Regions from separate parts of the Homo sapiens genome. Here region 2 is linked to region 1. Evidence: fine-mapped expression QTL. Tissue or cell type: whole blood. Region 1 holds a variant in brackets; the other region holds the start of a gene. All regions are shown on one strand. Distances are from middle to middle.

The links. PIP is the estimated chance that this variant, and not a neighbour inherited with it, causes the effect.
Region 2: it holds the start of ADAM28, and the variant in region 1 is fine-mapped to the expression of ADAM28 in whole blood (TOPMed, PIP above 0.99).

What each region holds. Positions count from the first base shown.
Region 1 is chr8:24,353,237-24,361,453 of GRCh38, reverse strand. It overlaps ADAM28 (ADAM metallopeptidase domain 28), which reads right to left. Exons shown (of 23, transcript NM_014265.6): 22 at 7,622-7,684; 23 at 2,440-7,070. The coding sequence ends at 7,050. All of the region lies in intron 3 of ADAM7-AS1 (ADAM7, ADAMDEC1 and ADAM28 antisense RNA 1), which reads left to right. Among named protein-coding and RNA genes, the nearest start is that of ADAMDEC1, 27 kb to the left of the region's middle. The variant G/T (reference allele first, on the strand shown) is at 4,032.
Region 2 is chr8:24,289,239-24,297,455 of GRCh38, reverse strand. It overlaps ADAM28 (ADAM metallopeptidase domain 28), which reads right to left and starts at 3,387. Exons shown (of 23, transcript NM_014265.6): 1 at 3,261-3,387. The coding sequence starts at 3,306. It overlaps ADAM7-AS1 (ADAM7, ADAMDEC1 and ADAM28 antisense RNA 1), which reads left to right. Exons shown (of 6, transcript NR_125808.1): 5 at 1,206-1,302; 6 at 1,399-1,642.

The DNA.
Region 1 (8,217 bases):
GCCCAAGGTCACAGCTCTTTTGAGAGCAATTTGTACCTGTGACTAGTTGACATGAGGGAGTAAAAGCTTTTCCCTTTTGCCTCAACTTGGCTTCATTCTGAAGGATAGCCCAGGTTCAGGGCTGGCTGGGCCAGCTAAAGCCTTCTTTGAGGCAGCATCATTCCCAACTCCTCCAGCCTAATCCTGCTTTCTCCCATTCCATTAAACAAATAGGGGACCTGACCTGAAAGCCCTCCATAATAAACTTCCTGGCTGCTAAAATCCATCTCAGATTCTGCTTGCCCAGGAACCCGAACTGTGATACAGAGAACTGCCTTTAGATGGTATATACACCATTGTTCATCACTGCATTATTTTAGCCATAAACATTTTTGAAAAAAGATTTCATTGTTGAATCAGATATTAAGTAAAACATTATTCATTAATAAAATAGTATTGATGGCTGCATAATATTCTTATAGATTTGTGTCATATTACTAAGTAAAATTAAAAGCCATAATACAAATAGCATAAATATTGAATTAATACTTAACTTATATACCAGACAGAAAAGAGAGGAAAAGGTCATATTTCCAAGTGTTGATTGAAATCATACTTGGTGAGATTAGGAAAAATTTTTGTCTTAGTACTTTCTCTTGTTTCTCAACCTTTCTATATTAAGCATATATTGTTTTTTAAATTTTTTAAAAATTATACTTTCAGTTCTGGGATACATGTGCAGAATGTGAAGGTTTGTTACTATAGGTATACATGTGCCATGGTGGTTGGCTGCACCCACCCACCCATCATCTACATTAGGTATTTCTCATAATGCTATCCCTCCCCTACTCCCCCACCCCGCAACAGGCCCCGGTATGTGATGTTCCTCTCCCTGGGTCCGTGTGTTCTCATTGTTCAACTCCCACTTATAAGTGAGAACATGTGGTGTTTGGTTTTCTGTTCCTCTGTTAGTTTGCTGACAATGATGGTTTTCATGTCCCTGCATAGGACGTGAACTCATCCTTTTTTATGGCTGTGTGGTATTTCATGGTGTATATGTGCCAAATTTTCTTTATCTAGTGTATCATTCATGGGCACTTGGGTTGGTTCTAAGTCTTTGCTTTGTGAACAGTATCACAATAAACATACGTGTGCATATGTCTTTATAGTAGAATGATTTACAATCCTTTGGGTATAAACCCAGTAATGGGATTGCTTGGTCAAATGGTATTTCTGGTTCTAGAACCTTAATGAATTGCCATATTGTCTTTCACAATGGTTGAACTAATTTACACTCCCAACAGTGTAAAAGTGTTCCTGTTTCTCCACATCCTCTCCAGCATCTGTTGTTTTCCTGACTTTTTAAGGATCACCATTCTAACTGGCATGAGATTGTATCTCATCGTGGTTTTAATTTGCGTTTCTCAAATGACCAGTGATGATGAGCTTTTTTTCATAGTTTGTTGGCTGCATAAATATCTTTTTTTGAAAAGTGTCTGTTCATATCCTTCACCTACTTTTTGATGGGGGATTTTTTTTTTCTTGTAAATTTAAGTTCTTTGTAGATTCTGGATATTAGCCCTTTGTCAGATGGATAGATTGCAAAAATTGTCTCCCATTTTGTAGGTTGCCTGTTCACTCTGATAGTTTCTTTTGCTGTGCAGAAGCTCTTTAGTTTAATTAGATCCCATTTGTCAATGTTGGCGTCTGTTGCCATTGCTTTTGGTGTTTTAGTCATGAAGTCTTTGCCCATGCCTATGTCCTGAATGGTATTGCCTAGGTTTACTTCTGGAGTTATGGTTTTAGGTCTTACGTCTGAGTCTTTGATCCATCTTGAGTTAATTTTTGTATAAGGTGTAAGGAAAGGGTCCAGTTTCAGTTTTCTGCATATGGCTAGCCAGTTTTCCCAACACCATTTATTAAATAGGGAATCCTTTACACATTGCTTGTTTTTGTCAGGTTTGTCAAAGATCAGATGGTTGGAGATGTCTGGTGTTACTTCTGAGGCCTCTGTTCTGTTCCATTGGTTTGTCTCTCTGTTTTGGTACCAGTACCATGCTGCTTTGGTTACTGTAGCCTTGTAGTATTGTTTGAAGTCAGGTAGTGTGATGCCTCCAGCTTTGTTCTTTTTGCTTTTTTTTTTTTTTTTTGGGTGGAGTCAGTCTTGCTCTGTCACCCAGGCTAGAGTGCGGTGGTACGATCTTGGCTCACTGAAACCTCTGTGCCCTGGGTTCAAGTGATTCTCCTGCCTCAGCCTCCTGAGAGCTGGGATTACAGGTGCCCGCCATCCTGCCTGGCTAATTTTTGTATTATTGGTAGAGATGAGGTTTCATCAACTTGGCCAGGCTGGTCTCGAACTCCTGACCCTCGTGATCCACCCACCTCAGCCTCCCAAAGTGCTGGGATTATAGGCATCAGCCACTGTGCCTGACCAAGCATACATCTTTTTACAGAAGAAAATTAAATAAGTATTTTATATTTGTGATTTGTCCAGATTTTAAAATAACATTGTCAAACTATTTAAAGTAACAAATAGTTTTAACTTTGTGTGAGGTGGGAGCAACATAAACGACTTAGTCATCTTAGTCATTTAATATTGAGATGTCAGATATATCCCAAGAGTATGGACTTTAATATGAGGTGAAGGAGATAAACCGTTTAATGTTCACAAGAAGTTGCCTTCACAATAAATTGTATACCGTAATTTTCATGCTTAGGATTTTTTTTATAACAATAGTATTCGCTTAGCATACTACTAACAGTAATAGTGATACTGTATTAAGTGTTGGGCATTGTAGCAGACCACCCAGGCCTAGTTGCTAAAAAGTGCCTAACATTGTCAAGGGAAAGCCTTTTTATGGAAGCAGCAAAAGAGACAAAGTGAATTCAAGGGCAGATGTGCCAACGTGGCTACAGATTTTGTTAGAGGTGTTTTCTCCTGAGTTGGGATCTTCCCTGACAAGGTGGAGCTCAGTATCTCCACACAGCTGTGCCACTCTTGGCTTGGCCCACTTTGGAGAAAAAAAATTGAGGAGAAAAGAATATGCAAGACTTGCTTATCACCCCAACCATTTCCATATTTTTCCATATTACATCCAGATGCTAGTGTATGCAAATTATTTAGCTTACGCTCAAGAGATGGATTCTTTGAACAATGACATATGATGAAACAATATTAAAGCTGATAATAATATTGGATGCACCAACTGAAAAATAGCAATATAACACTTAGGAAATAATGGTGTCTTTGAATGATGGGGAACATACTAGTCAAGTGGCTGAGAAAGCATGTACTTCTGAAAAATATTTACTGTGGGAAGCAGTAATAAAGTTTATACACATTTTGCTTTAATTTTTAAAATATCTGGAAATATAAGTTAAAAACAGTTAATTGGTTAGCCTTTATAAAATTAAACTGATAGGAAAGAAGAGAATGTTATTAAGTAAACAAGAGAAACAACTATATAAGTAAACAAGAGAAACAACTATAAATTTTGAAATTAGTGAACAGGAGGACTGACAGTACAGAATATAAAAACCAGTAATTTGGAAGATAAATTTAAGGAGTTATCCAAAATTACCAAGGAAACACAAAGTGAGAAAGAATATGATAAATGAGAATACTGGCTATCAGAGATTTCAAGCAAATCCTCGGTGCTAGTAAAGAAGGGAGAACAAATGGAAGAGACTAGAGACACAAAGAAAGGAAAAAAAGTTTTGCAGTGATGAAAGCCTATTAAATATAGTTAATTTTACCTAAACCTATCTGGAGCATTTAAAACATTATATGGTTTGGCTCTGTGTCCATCCCCCCAAATCTCATTTTTTTAATTGCTATAATCTCCACATGTTGAGGGAGGGACCAGGTGGGAGGTGATTGGATCATGGGGGTGGTTTCCCCCATGCTTTTGTCGAGATAGTAAGCTCTCAAGAGATCTGATGGTTTTATAAGTGTTTGACAGTTCCTCCTTCATACACATCTTCCATCATATGAGATGTTTCTGCTTCCTCTTTCATCATGATTGTAAGTTTCCTGAGGCCTCCTAGGCCAT[G/T]TGGAAATCTGAGTCAATTAATCCTCCTTTCTTTATAAATTACCCAGTCTCAGGTGGTATTCTTTATAGCCATGTGAAAACAGACTAATAGAAAATGTTTGTTCTCTACTTCCTTGTATCAGCTATCTATTGCTGCATAACAAATATCTCCAAACCATAACAACTTTAAACAACACATATTAATTATCATACAGTTTCTGTGGGTGTGTAATCTGGACAAAATTTAGCTGCATCCTCTACTTCAGGGTGTCTCACAAGGCTGAAGTCAAGATTCAGCTGGGAAGGAATCTAAAATTCCAAGCTTATTCAGTGGTTATTGGTAGACTTCACTTCATTTGAGGGTCGTTGAACTCAGGGGCTCATTTTCTTAATGGCTGCTAGCCAGAGGCCACCTTCAATTCCTTAACACATAGCAGTGATTTCCAATGTGAATAATAAAATCCTAATTATAATAATAACCCTTTCCATATTCTCTGACTGCAACCAACTAAAATTTGCTTTCTTTTCATGCATACTTCATTATTTTATAAAAAGCTAAAAGCCTTCCCAAAGGCCATATAAAACCAGTAATTTGGTGAGTTGTAATAAGTAGACAAACACTAAGGTATCTTAGAGTAACTGGATAAAAACATAATTTAACCTAATAATTTCACTGTTTTAAAGTAGACAAGGTAAAAATAACTAATGATGAAAACAGGTTTGGTGGCATATCTGAGGTAGTTAAATGTCAAATAAGCGGAATTCCCTTAAAGTTAGAAAGTTACGGATATAAGTAAGTGTGGAAACAGTATTGTGAAATCAAAAAGTCTGTTCTAAACTATTCTGCAGTTGAGCTGAAAGGGAAACATTGTAGGACTTGGGTTCGCAGTTCTATGATAAAATAATGGTTTTCCTGTCATTGTACTGCATTTCTTCTCTTCAAATAGGACGTATGATGCATCTGCATCAGGGACCTAGTGACATCATTTAGGAACTTGCAGGCATGTTCACATGCCACTGCTTTTGAGAGTGTATGGTTTAGTTTTTGCTTGGGTTATGGTACATGGCTAGTTGAGGATTCATAGATTTAAGATTTCCATTCCATCAGTATAAAAAAGGATTAGGTGAATCTATTACTGGGGACAGATATTTAAAAAACAACAACAACAACACAGAAAAGTTCACAAGTTGGTCACGAGTACATAATGGCTTTCCAGGAAATAGGGATTTATTTCTGGGTCAGGGGAGGGTCTTCTGAAACCTCACAGGGCAGATAAAGCTCTACTTTTAAAGTTGTTCTTCTGCAAATGCCACATGGAGAAAAAGCCTGTATCCTTGACAGTGATTTGATCAGTGGACTCTGGATTTCCTGAGGACTGAGCTTCACTTTTGAGGCCAGAGTGGGCTTATCTAGAACCTCATACTGCAAGGGTAAATGAACCATAAAGTTCCTCATGAAGCGACAGGCCTGTGGGGACCAGGTAAGTGATTGATAGAAATGGGTGAAGCAGACAAATACAAGAAAAACTGTAGCTGTGATGATGAACTAAAGCATGTTCCCTGATTATGGAAACAGCTACTTTACTAGTTAGGATGATCTCTGTTGAAAGTGAGAGAAAATCCAATTCAAAATGGCTTAAACAACAAGGAAAATGTATGGCTCATATAATAAGGAGTACCAAGAAAGTGTGAGGTAACTCCAGCAGTCACTGATCTACCAATTCCATGACATCATTGAAAGGCCAGGTTTTATTCTTTTCATCTTTCTGCTCTATCTATCTTTTTCAGCCTTCATAATCACCGTGTGGAGCGCAGCAGTACCAGCTAGAGTATTCAGATGCCCATATCCAGAAAAAGAGACGAGGAAAAATTTTCCAGAAGTGTTGTAACATAATTCCTCTGTCGTCTTACTAGCAAAAAAAAAAAGGGAGGGGGAGGATTATAAAATCATCTCCAAGTCGACCACTAGCAAGGAAAAATGAGGTTATTTTAATTGACTTGACTTACTTAAAAGGATAGGGATTTATCCCTGAGATAGATAGATTAGATAGGATATTCTTTCCTAGAAGTGGGCAGGTGAACAAAATTATTGTTCTAAAAGCCAGGAAAAAGGGGATTATTTGGTAGGAAACCAATAGTGTTTGCTACATTACCCATCAACTAAGCTGACGGTTGCTATGGGCAATGTAAGTCTGTTGTTGACAAAGCATCGGATTACTTTTAGATTACATCTGACAAAGCTGGGAATCTATTGTTTATGCAAGATCTCTCAATTTTTAAATATTAGCAATACATTCAAAACATGTAAAAGTACTATGTGTCCAATATCAATATCATTCAGACCAAATATATTTGCAGTGCAAACATGGCCTACAGGTCACCAGTTCGCAACCTGGTTTATCCTATTAATTTAACTGAAATTTTCTCCATTTAAAAAGTGAAAACCACTTTAACCATGCCAGTAATTAATTATACAAATATATATGATAAAACATTTTTAAATTCTTAGTTATACCAAATTGTAGAAAACCTCAAATGATATAGCTAATAATGATTTCAGAAGCTAATCTAGGAAAGAGATCCACAAAACAGAATTTTACATCATTTTCTTAACTGTGATTGTAATTTGACAAGTTAATGGTTAAAACAATCAAGATGTTGCAATCAATTGTACATTTAATGGATGTACAATTTTTCTTATTCCTCCAAGATTAGTGTGATGTTTTTATGTTTTGTTTTCATTAGAGAATGAATCAATTCCTATTACAGATTTTAACTTCGGAGATATTTCTTTACAATCATCTTCCTTCTTATAAGAATGGATAATTGAAATTTTAAATTCATGCAAAGGTTCTCAGGCATATGTTCCTCTTGAAAATTTTCTTTAGTCTCTTCAAAGTCTAACATGAATCAGAAAATGTTAACCTTCTTGAGTCGAGAGCAAATACTGGTGAGATAGATAGTATATTTCTCTGCCATCCAGATTTTCCAGTTTTCCAAGTTGATAATTTAGCCATTAGTTCTTGCTTAGCTGTTGCTTCATGCTTTTGGATTTGAGTCCTAAAAAAGACATAACTTCTAAATGATCAACTTTCTTCAAAAATTTAGATATTTACTATTATGAAGCTGAACTATGAAGAAATTAAAATTATCTGAAGTCAGTTTCTATTTCATAGGTCACTTGATACAGCAAAAACGAAGAAGTAGAAATGTGAGAGGATAGGAAGGGAGTGAGAAAAACACTACACTAAGATCTAAGTATCTATCCGGTAATTAGCATAATATGGAGAAGGTAGGGGACCAGAAGGAGAGTTACAGGATACTATACTTATTATTCTATGGGAGGTTTCTTCTCATGTTCATCCTTAGGGAATATTTCTGAGAAAATAAATAATATTGGTGTCTACATAGCTTTCTAGCTGAGAATCTTCTAATTTCTCTTTTTAATTATTGGCCATACCGAGAAATAAGACTTTCATGTTGGCACCCATCTCCAAATCATACAGATACTGTTCTTAGTAAGTTTTTTTCTAAAAAGACATGGTGGGCCTTCTCTTGACAGTAGGAGATTATAATACAAGAATATAATAATTTGGCTATAGATCTCTTACCTTAGGTGTAGACACTGGATTATCCTTGAAAACAGTAGGGGGAAGTGCGTTTGTGTCTTTATGCTACGTTAATTATAAAAACAATGGTATGGCATTAGAAATGCTATGCTTGTCCCATCTTAGCTATATTTATTTCCTTAATGAAATTATTTCCTAGCTCTTCTTCACTCATTTAAATTCTACCCAACTTTCAAGGTCCAGTTCAAATTCCAACTACTCAACCAATGAATATTCGTCCTACTTTAACCACTCCAAGCCCGTTGACTTTCTCCTCACCATATTTTTCCTGTCAGTGTCACTCGTCTTGGGCGATACTACAAATAACAGTTGAAGAATTAAGTGCTCCATTTTTATATGACTTGTTTTTTCTCACTAAAAATGTGAAATTTCTTGAAAGAAAAAAATCTCAAATGTAGGTCTTTCTCATTTACCCACAGCAGAATACCAGGCACAAGAAAAATGCTCAGGAGCCATTTAATGAGTGAATGTACTGTAATTCTTACTTCATGAGCACCTGACTCTTATTCCAGGTTTGCTTATATATGGCCCATTTTTCATACCCTACCTCCTACAGAAAACTATGACTAATATACATA
Region 2 (8,217 bases), 64 kb after region 1:
AAAGCAGAAAATGAAGTGAGTTTCCTTCTCAGCACCATTCAGAAATGGTAAGAAGGAAAACAGGCTCATCTAGCCAACACAAATTTTCTCTCACATGCACCCTGACCTCTATGCTTCTAGTTAGTATCTGAATCCCAATGTTTCATGAAATTAGAAATTGCAAACTGGCTCTTAAATATGGGCTTAAAATATGTAAGTTATGTAATTTATTTCCAACTTTTTGGTGGCCGAACACTTCCAAATGGAAACCAAAAACAAAGCAAAATAAAACAAACAACAACAACAACAAAAAAAAACCCACAACATTTCTTTTAGAAATCATTGGCAACCTCTCAATCTCTTCAGTTTGAAGTGAATGGAATTCCAGCTCCTTCCAAACTCCTGTCACTCCATATATTCTCTAAAGAAACTAAATGGAATTTCTCTTAAAGGCTCTTATTTTCTGGAAACCTAGAAGTCCCTGAAATAATGGGATCTGGAATACAACAAATTACACAGCCATTGTAGGGATGTAACAGACCTAAATATTGTTTAGCTCATCCATCCTTAAGTTTAATGGAAATGGTGCAGCGTCTTCCCCACTGAATAACATCACGTTAATTATTTTTGAAGCCTGAGGAACAAACACAACTAACTGCCATCCAGGGATTACACAAATCCAAGGTGTAACACAATATGTTTTTACTAATTCATTTTAATACTTGCCTTCTCTCTCCCACAGAACTCACACACTGGATTAGTCTTGACTAGCAAAACCAGATCAGGAAAAAGAAAACTGTTATTTTGGTTTAGATGGGATAATTATTTTTGACTGTTTTGAGTCTTAGAAAAGCCAAAGCTCATTAACAACGTTAATATGAGAGACATTAGTCTGGATTGCTACATTATTTGTTCATGTGTTTGGGGTCATTTTGGAAATGGGAACATGAGTATGTAATATTGACATTTTCATTTTCGTTCAAATGTGTTTGAAACTGTTCAAAGAAATGTCTTCTTTCCAAACTGAACACATCATATTAAACGCTGAATTAGGGTTTACACAAGGATATTGACTTATGTCCTGGGATTCTCTGCATCTCCTCAAACCATCTTGTGGTTTTAAACTTCATGCATTAAAAGTGAGTACAAACAAAAGGGAAAAAACTGCATTTCTATTAGGTCTGTTATTTTGACTATTTAGATTAAACTGTATATTTTCTTTTCAGTCTTCCAGTTACCTTATAAAGGCAAGGAAGAACTGGTAGTTTGAAATAAAATAATTTCAAAAAGTGCTGTACCCCCTGAGTATTCTGCTGTAATAAGGTAAGCACCTTTCTCCTTTGTTGATGCAATCATTTACATCTTCACCCCGCAAACACCTGTCACATCCTTTTAAATATTTGTTTTTCCTTTTCCTAGGATGAAATCCCATAAGTCAATTTTTTCTCGGGATTGTGAAGTTCACTGCACACAACCAGCCTTATTTTACATCTCTTTCTTTTATTTCAACCATCTGGGGACTGGGCAGAAGTCATGGTCAGAGGGGCACATATGTATTGCTTTGATGATGGGGGCAGAGAACAAACAGGAAGAACTGGGAAATGAAAATTGCTTTACTTCTTATATTCTGACTAGAAAGGCAACCCAAATGGGAATCATAACAGGGATAGTTCAGTGGCAAAAAGACACCCTTAAAAATAGAAGCTAGAAGTTAAAGGAGGGGTGACATCACACTTTTAGAGTTGACATCAGAGGAAGTTGCATCTCTTGGTGCCATGTTATACATGCACCGTCGGGGCAGCAGAACTGATTAGTGTGCCCAGTTGCACAAAAGGACTGTAATGTGCATGGGCCCCAGTGTTAGCCATGTGACTCTGTTAATGGATCCAGCTTGATCTTTACGCTCTTCAACTAAGCTAGTGCCCAAGCAGTTCTTGTATTTCAGCTTAGAGGGGGTTCTGGAAAAGCTCTTGGTGATAGCATTTTTGGAGAACGGAGAGAAAAAAACATTTCTATTAAGTCTGCCTCAAAAAGTAGGAATTTCAGGTCAATGTTAAATGCCTGGCATGAGTTTTATATATATTTTTAATATTTCAGGCTTATTTTACCAAAAGAAAGCTGGTGTAACACGTTCACATCAGACAAAATAGGTATCAAAGCAAAAGGCATTAGAGATGAAGAGGATCACAGCACAGTGGGAAAAGGTTCAGTTCAGATATAGGTACATATTATATAAAGCAAAAATACACAGAAACAAAAGGAAAATAATTCGATATTTAAAGATATTAGGTTAAGTGAAATTTTTATAAGTCTTGAAAACAAATCAGAAACAGGTGAGACACAGGAAAATCATTTTTAGCAACAAAGTACTAAGAGGGTGCATGGACAAGGAAAACTTTTCCCTCCCTAAGCCCATACCTCTAGTTGATAATCTGTTCCCATCCCCAGGTCCCAGCAAACATTCTAAGACCCAAGAACAGGTTTACTGGGAGGAATTCGAGGCACTGCAGTTCATGTGCTGAGTTAAATAAGCTCTGGAAATAGAAGCTGAAGAATCACAATACCCAATCTAATTTAACCAAAGTCTAATTAGAGAATTTACCAGAAATTGAGAGACTTGCTAGACATAATTTCCTGTTAGGAAGTAGTATTTTTCTCCTTTCAAATTTTTAAATGTTTGGTATAATCAGCAAAATAGAAGTAAATTATCAATTTAAGCTTAACAGAGATATTTTGTTAAGTAATATCACAGTACCTTATAAATAAAAAATATTAATTATTTCCAGTTAGTCACACGTATTATTACTAATAATGAGTAAATACAAAAATATACACTCAAACAGAAAGAGCCAAACTGGCTCCCATAATAATAGTAGGTATTTTCCTAAGCCTTGTACACAGTAATAAATAAATAAATCTGCCACATCTTTACCATTCTTTAAATGACAAGCTGGGTTTTGATGAATTCCACTTTTTCAGTCAAAAATCATATTCATGATTTAAATTGTGCTGTATGAAATTGTCCCTTTTATTTCTGTATATTCTCAGATGAGATGCATACATATTGGTTCAAGACCTCTTGTTGCCTCTTTTTAACATTGTCTTTGTATCACTCGCAGCCCCCAAACAACAGGTTAAAACCAGCCCAACTGGTTAGTAAGATTGATTGAGAAAAAAGAAAAAGAAAAAAGTCAAAATAGTTTATACAATAAAACTATTAGGAGACTATGAAAAGTTCGCTAATGCATTCAATAGAACCTGAAAAAGAGCTAAATATGTACCTGCAACAGAGAGGAGGAGACTGACTGGCAGGAGACCTTGCAACATGCTGGGTGATTCCAGGAGCACGGTGTCTGCTCTTCTCGCTCAGGTGGGTGCTGCTGGGTCTGTCCCTGCCTCCTCTCCAGTGAGACAGAATGAAACTCCCTGGTTCATTCTTGTCTCTGATTCAGGAAGTGTTTACTAAAGGTGTTGCGCAACCTCGAAGCTGTGGTCCTGCAACAATGGCCCAGCAGGCGGAAGTCCTGGCTGCCTCCTGGCTCTAAGATTACTTGATCTGAACTATTGTTTTGCTCTCCTTTGCCATACTCCCCACTCCAAAGTAGTACATTTCCAACATATTACTATAGCCAGATAAGCTACAAGGAAAGAGGCAACTGCATTAATGAGTCTTGAAAAACATGCTAGACATTTATTTACATTACGGATATGATATATAAATATATGTTTAAATATATTTTTATATATATACAGTTGTAGGAAAAAAGTTATTAAGAATGTTATTTTTCCCCCACATACATAATGTGGTTATGTAAAGCAATTTCTAATTCAACCTAATTACTATATAGCATTCTCTTTTCCATTATTTTATGTTCTATTCCTCACACAAGTGTACTCTCAGGAAGTTTGAACTATCCTGAAATAAGAATGTCTGACAATATAAGCACAATAATTTTTAGATCCTTGGGGGTATTTGTGTCATAACTGGCAATGAGGAGTGTGGAAGAAGGATTCAAGACCCAAAGGATACAATTTTAGGATCTGTCACTGGTGGTAGTAAGGCTAAACTGGGCATGTCTAAAAATCATACTTATAACCAATAAAATAACTAATATCAACTGAGCTGCTTATTAAGTTTTAGGTACTGATAGGGTTTGGTTGTGTCCCTACCTGAATCTCATCTTGAATTGTAGCTCCCATAATCCCCATGTGTTGTGGGAGGGACCCAGTGGGAGATAATTGAATCAAGGGGCGGGCTTTTCCCATGCTGTTCTCATTATAGTGAATAAGTCTCATAAGATCTAATGATTTTATAAAGGGCAGTTCCCCTGCTCAGGCTCTCTTTGCCTGCCTCCATGTAAGATGTGTCTTTGCTCCTCCTTCACCTTCTACCATGAGAGTGAGGCCTCCCCAGCCATGTGAAACTGTGAGGCCATGAAACCTCTTTTTAATTTACCCAGTCTCAGATATTTCTTCGTGATAGTATGAAAATGGACTAATACAGGTACTCTCCTAAATCTACTGTACTTGTTATTTTATTAGTCTTTATGATACTCATGTATTATGCATTTACAATCATTTTGCAGGTGAAAATTTGGGGTTTTAAAGGCAAAATTCAAAAGATTAAGAATCAGTTGTCCCCTCATTGTATAGATTAAGAAGATTAAGCAGATAAAGTCACCTATCCAGTAAGTGGTAGAAGTGGAATCTGAACTATGTGTTGTCTGGGCTCTTAGTCATATACTCTAATGCTTTCCCTTGGCTTAGCTGACTTGTACTCCCAGTATCATTTCTATTGAAAAGATTCTGGGAGAATAGAAATAATTATGAAATTCCTAAGGAATAGAAATTACGCTGAGGACCAGTTATTACCACAAAACCTAGTCCTAGTCCACTAAAATCATGCATCATTTTACAGATTCTGAAACACATTCTCATACTAGAGGGATTACAGTGATTATTGATGTCTCCAAATGATTATACAGTCATCAACTAAAACCACAAAGGAATTTTTGAGTCTAGTTACTGAGCATTTTAACCATCAGGATTGCGATTCACAGATTTCTTGCCTTTTCAACCCAAGTTCCATTGCTTTGTCTTTTCCAGGGAACAGAAAGGATACTTCAACTTTTAATTATTACATATTTTTTCTCCATTAATTCAACGTAATTTTACTTACAGCTATTATGTGTCAGACACTGAGATTGCAGTTGAAAAAACACAATCATGGCCGGGAGTGGTGGCTCATGTCTGTAATCCCAGCACTTTGGGAGGCTGAGGCAGACAGACTACCTGAGATCAGAATTTGAGACCAGCCTGCCCAACATGGTGAAACCCCATCTCTACTAAAAAAAAAAAATTAGCTGGGTGTGGTGGTGGTCACCTGTAATCCCAGTTACTCAGGAGGCTGAGGTAGGAGAACTGCTTGATTGCTTGAACCCAGGAGGCAGAGGCTGCAGCGAGCTGAGATTGCAACAACACACTCCAGCCTGGGCAACAGAGCGAGACAGTGTCTCAAACAAACAAACAAACAAAAAACACAATCACTTTCATTGAGATGTTCACAATCTGACAAAGATAAGTTCAATTACCATAAAATTGCACAGAGTGAGTACCACCTATAAATGATCACAATATCACAAGGTGTTTAGTGTTACAATAGATTTATCAATAGAAGTCAGAGGTCTACACCAAACAGGGCAGGGAGTGCATCCTGGTGGCAGGAGTCCTGGGAAAAGGACTCCCTATTTCATAAATGGTGCTGGGATAGCTGGCTAGCCATATGCAGAAGAATAAAACTGGACCCCTACCTTACACCATATACAAAAATTAACTCAAGATGGATTAAAGATTTAAATGTAAGACCTCAAATTATGGAAAACCTAGAAAATGACATTCTGGACATTGGCCCTAGGAAACAATTTATAACTTAAGTCCTCAAAAGCAATTGCAATGAAAACAAAAATGGATGAGTGGGACCTAATTAAATTAAAGAGCTTCTGTAGAGCAAAAAGAAACTATCAGCAGAGCAAACCAACAACCTACATAACGGGTGAAAATATGAGCAAACTACACAGCTGACAAAAGTCTAATATCCAGAATCTATAAAGAACTTAAACAATTGAACAAGCATGAGATAAGTAACCTCATTTAAAAATGGGCAAAAGGGTGGGTGCAGTGGCTCATGCCTGTAATCCTAGCACTCTGGGAGGCCAAGGTGGGCAGATCACCTGAAGTCAAGAGTTCGAGACTAGTCTAGCCAACATAGTGAAACCCCATCTCTATTAAAAATACAAAAATTAGCCACGTGTGGTAGGCACCTGTAGTCCCAGCTACTTGGGAGGCTGAGGCAGGAGAATCACTTGAACCCGGAGGAGGAGGTTGCAGTGAACCAAGACTGCGCCACTGCACTCCAGCCTGGGTGACAGAGCAAGACTCCGTCTCAAAAAAAAAGAAAAAAAAAAAAAAAAAGGGTCAAAAGAAATGAACAGACACTTCTCAAAAGAAGAAATACAAGCAGTTAAAAAAACATGTGAAAAAATTGCCCAACATAACTAATTATCAGAGAAATGCAAATCAAAACAATGAGGTACCAACTCACACCAGCCAAAATGGCTATTACTAAAAAGTCAAAAAATAACAAATGCTGGTGAGGCCACAGAGAAAAGGAAACACACAATGTTGGTAGGAATGTAAATTAGTTCAGCCACTCTGGAAAGCAGTTTGGAGATTTCTCAAAGAAATTAAAACAGAACTGTCATTTGACCGAACAATCCGTTTACTGGATATATAGCCAAAAGAAAATAAATTATTCTACCGAGAAGACACATGCTTATGTTCATCACAGTACTATCCACAAGAGCAATGACATGGAATCAAGCTAGGTGCCCATCAGTGGTGGAATGGATAAATACAATGTGGTACATATATACCTTGGAATACTATGCAGCTATAAAAAAGAATTAAATTGTGTTCTTTGCAGCACATGGATCACCTAGAGGCCATTAACCTAAGTGAATTAATGCAGAAACAGAAAACCGGTACCTTACACCATATACAAAAATTAACTCAAGATGGATTAAAGATTTAAATGTCAGACCTCAAACTATGGAAAACCTAGGAAATGACATTCTGGACATTGGCCCTGGAAACAATTTATGACTTAAGTCCTCAAAAGCAATTGCAATGAAAACAAAAATGGACAAGTGGGACCTAATTAAATTAAAGAGCTTCTGTACAGCAAAAAGAAACTATCAGCAGAGCAAACCAACAACCTACATAACGGGCGAAAATATAAGCAAACTGCACAGCTGACAAAAGTCTAATATCCAAAATCTATAAATACTGCATGTTCTCAATTATACATGGGAGCTAAACGCTGTGTACCCATGGACATAAAGATGACAACAATAGACACTGGGTACTGCTGGAGAAGGGAGGGAAGAGGGGAAAAGGCTGAAAACCTAGCTATTGGATACTATGCTGAGTACCCGGGTGGCAGGATTATTTGTACCCTAAACCTCAGCATCACGGAATATATCCATGTAACAGATGGATATGTACCTCCTTGAATCTAAAATAAAAGTTGGAAAAAAAGAATTATGAGAATAAATAAGGACAATATATTATAGCACATTAGTTTATGGCTGGTAGTGTTTGGAATTGTTGGAGCAAAGAATGCCTGAGAGAATGGGAAGATATCCTGCTAAGTATTTGTGCTTGACTTTGACGCTGTGGTGAATGGTCACCACTGATGGGATCGAATGAGAAGTATAACCTTCCTGCTTGCTTCTTGAGGAGGGGAGTGCCCTGGAAATGGTGAATGATGACAGTCTGCATGCTGATCCATGTGGAATTTTAAATTGGCACTTGTTCTTCGGCTCTTTTCAATTCTCTTGTAGTCGTGACATGCCTTTGATCAGTTTGTTCCAGTTATCATTCTCATAATTTTTCATCATTCTTCATAGCCCAGAGTTATAATTCCCTTTACTGTCAAAGAATTTATACCAATCTCTAAATGAATTTTATTTTCTGCTTCCCTGGTTATTTCCTCAAAGTTGTATCAAGTAAGCATAAAAGTTGAATTTGGGCAGTCAGTTTAATTTTCCCTTTTGTTTCTTTGTGATAAATACAGCATTATCATTGACATCTTTCATTGCCATGACTTGTCAAACTCTTTGCCAGAATATAAAATATAAATGGCAGAAAGAAGAGCTACATGACTGAAAAAACATATAT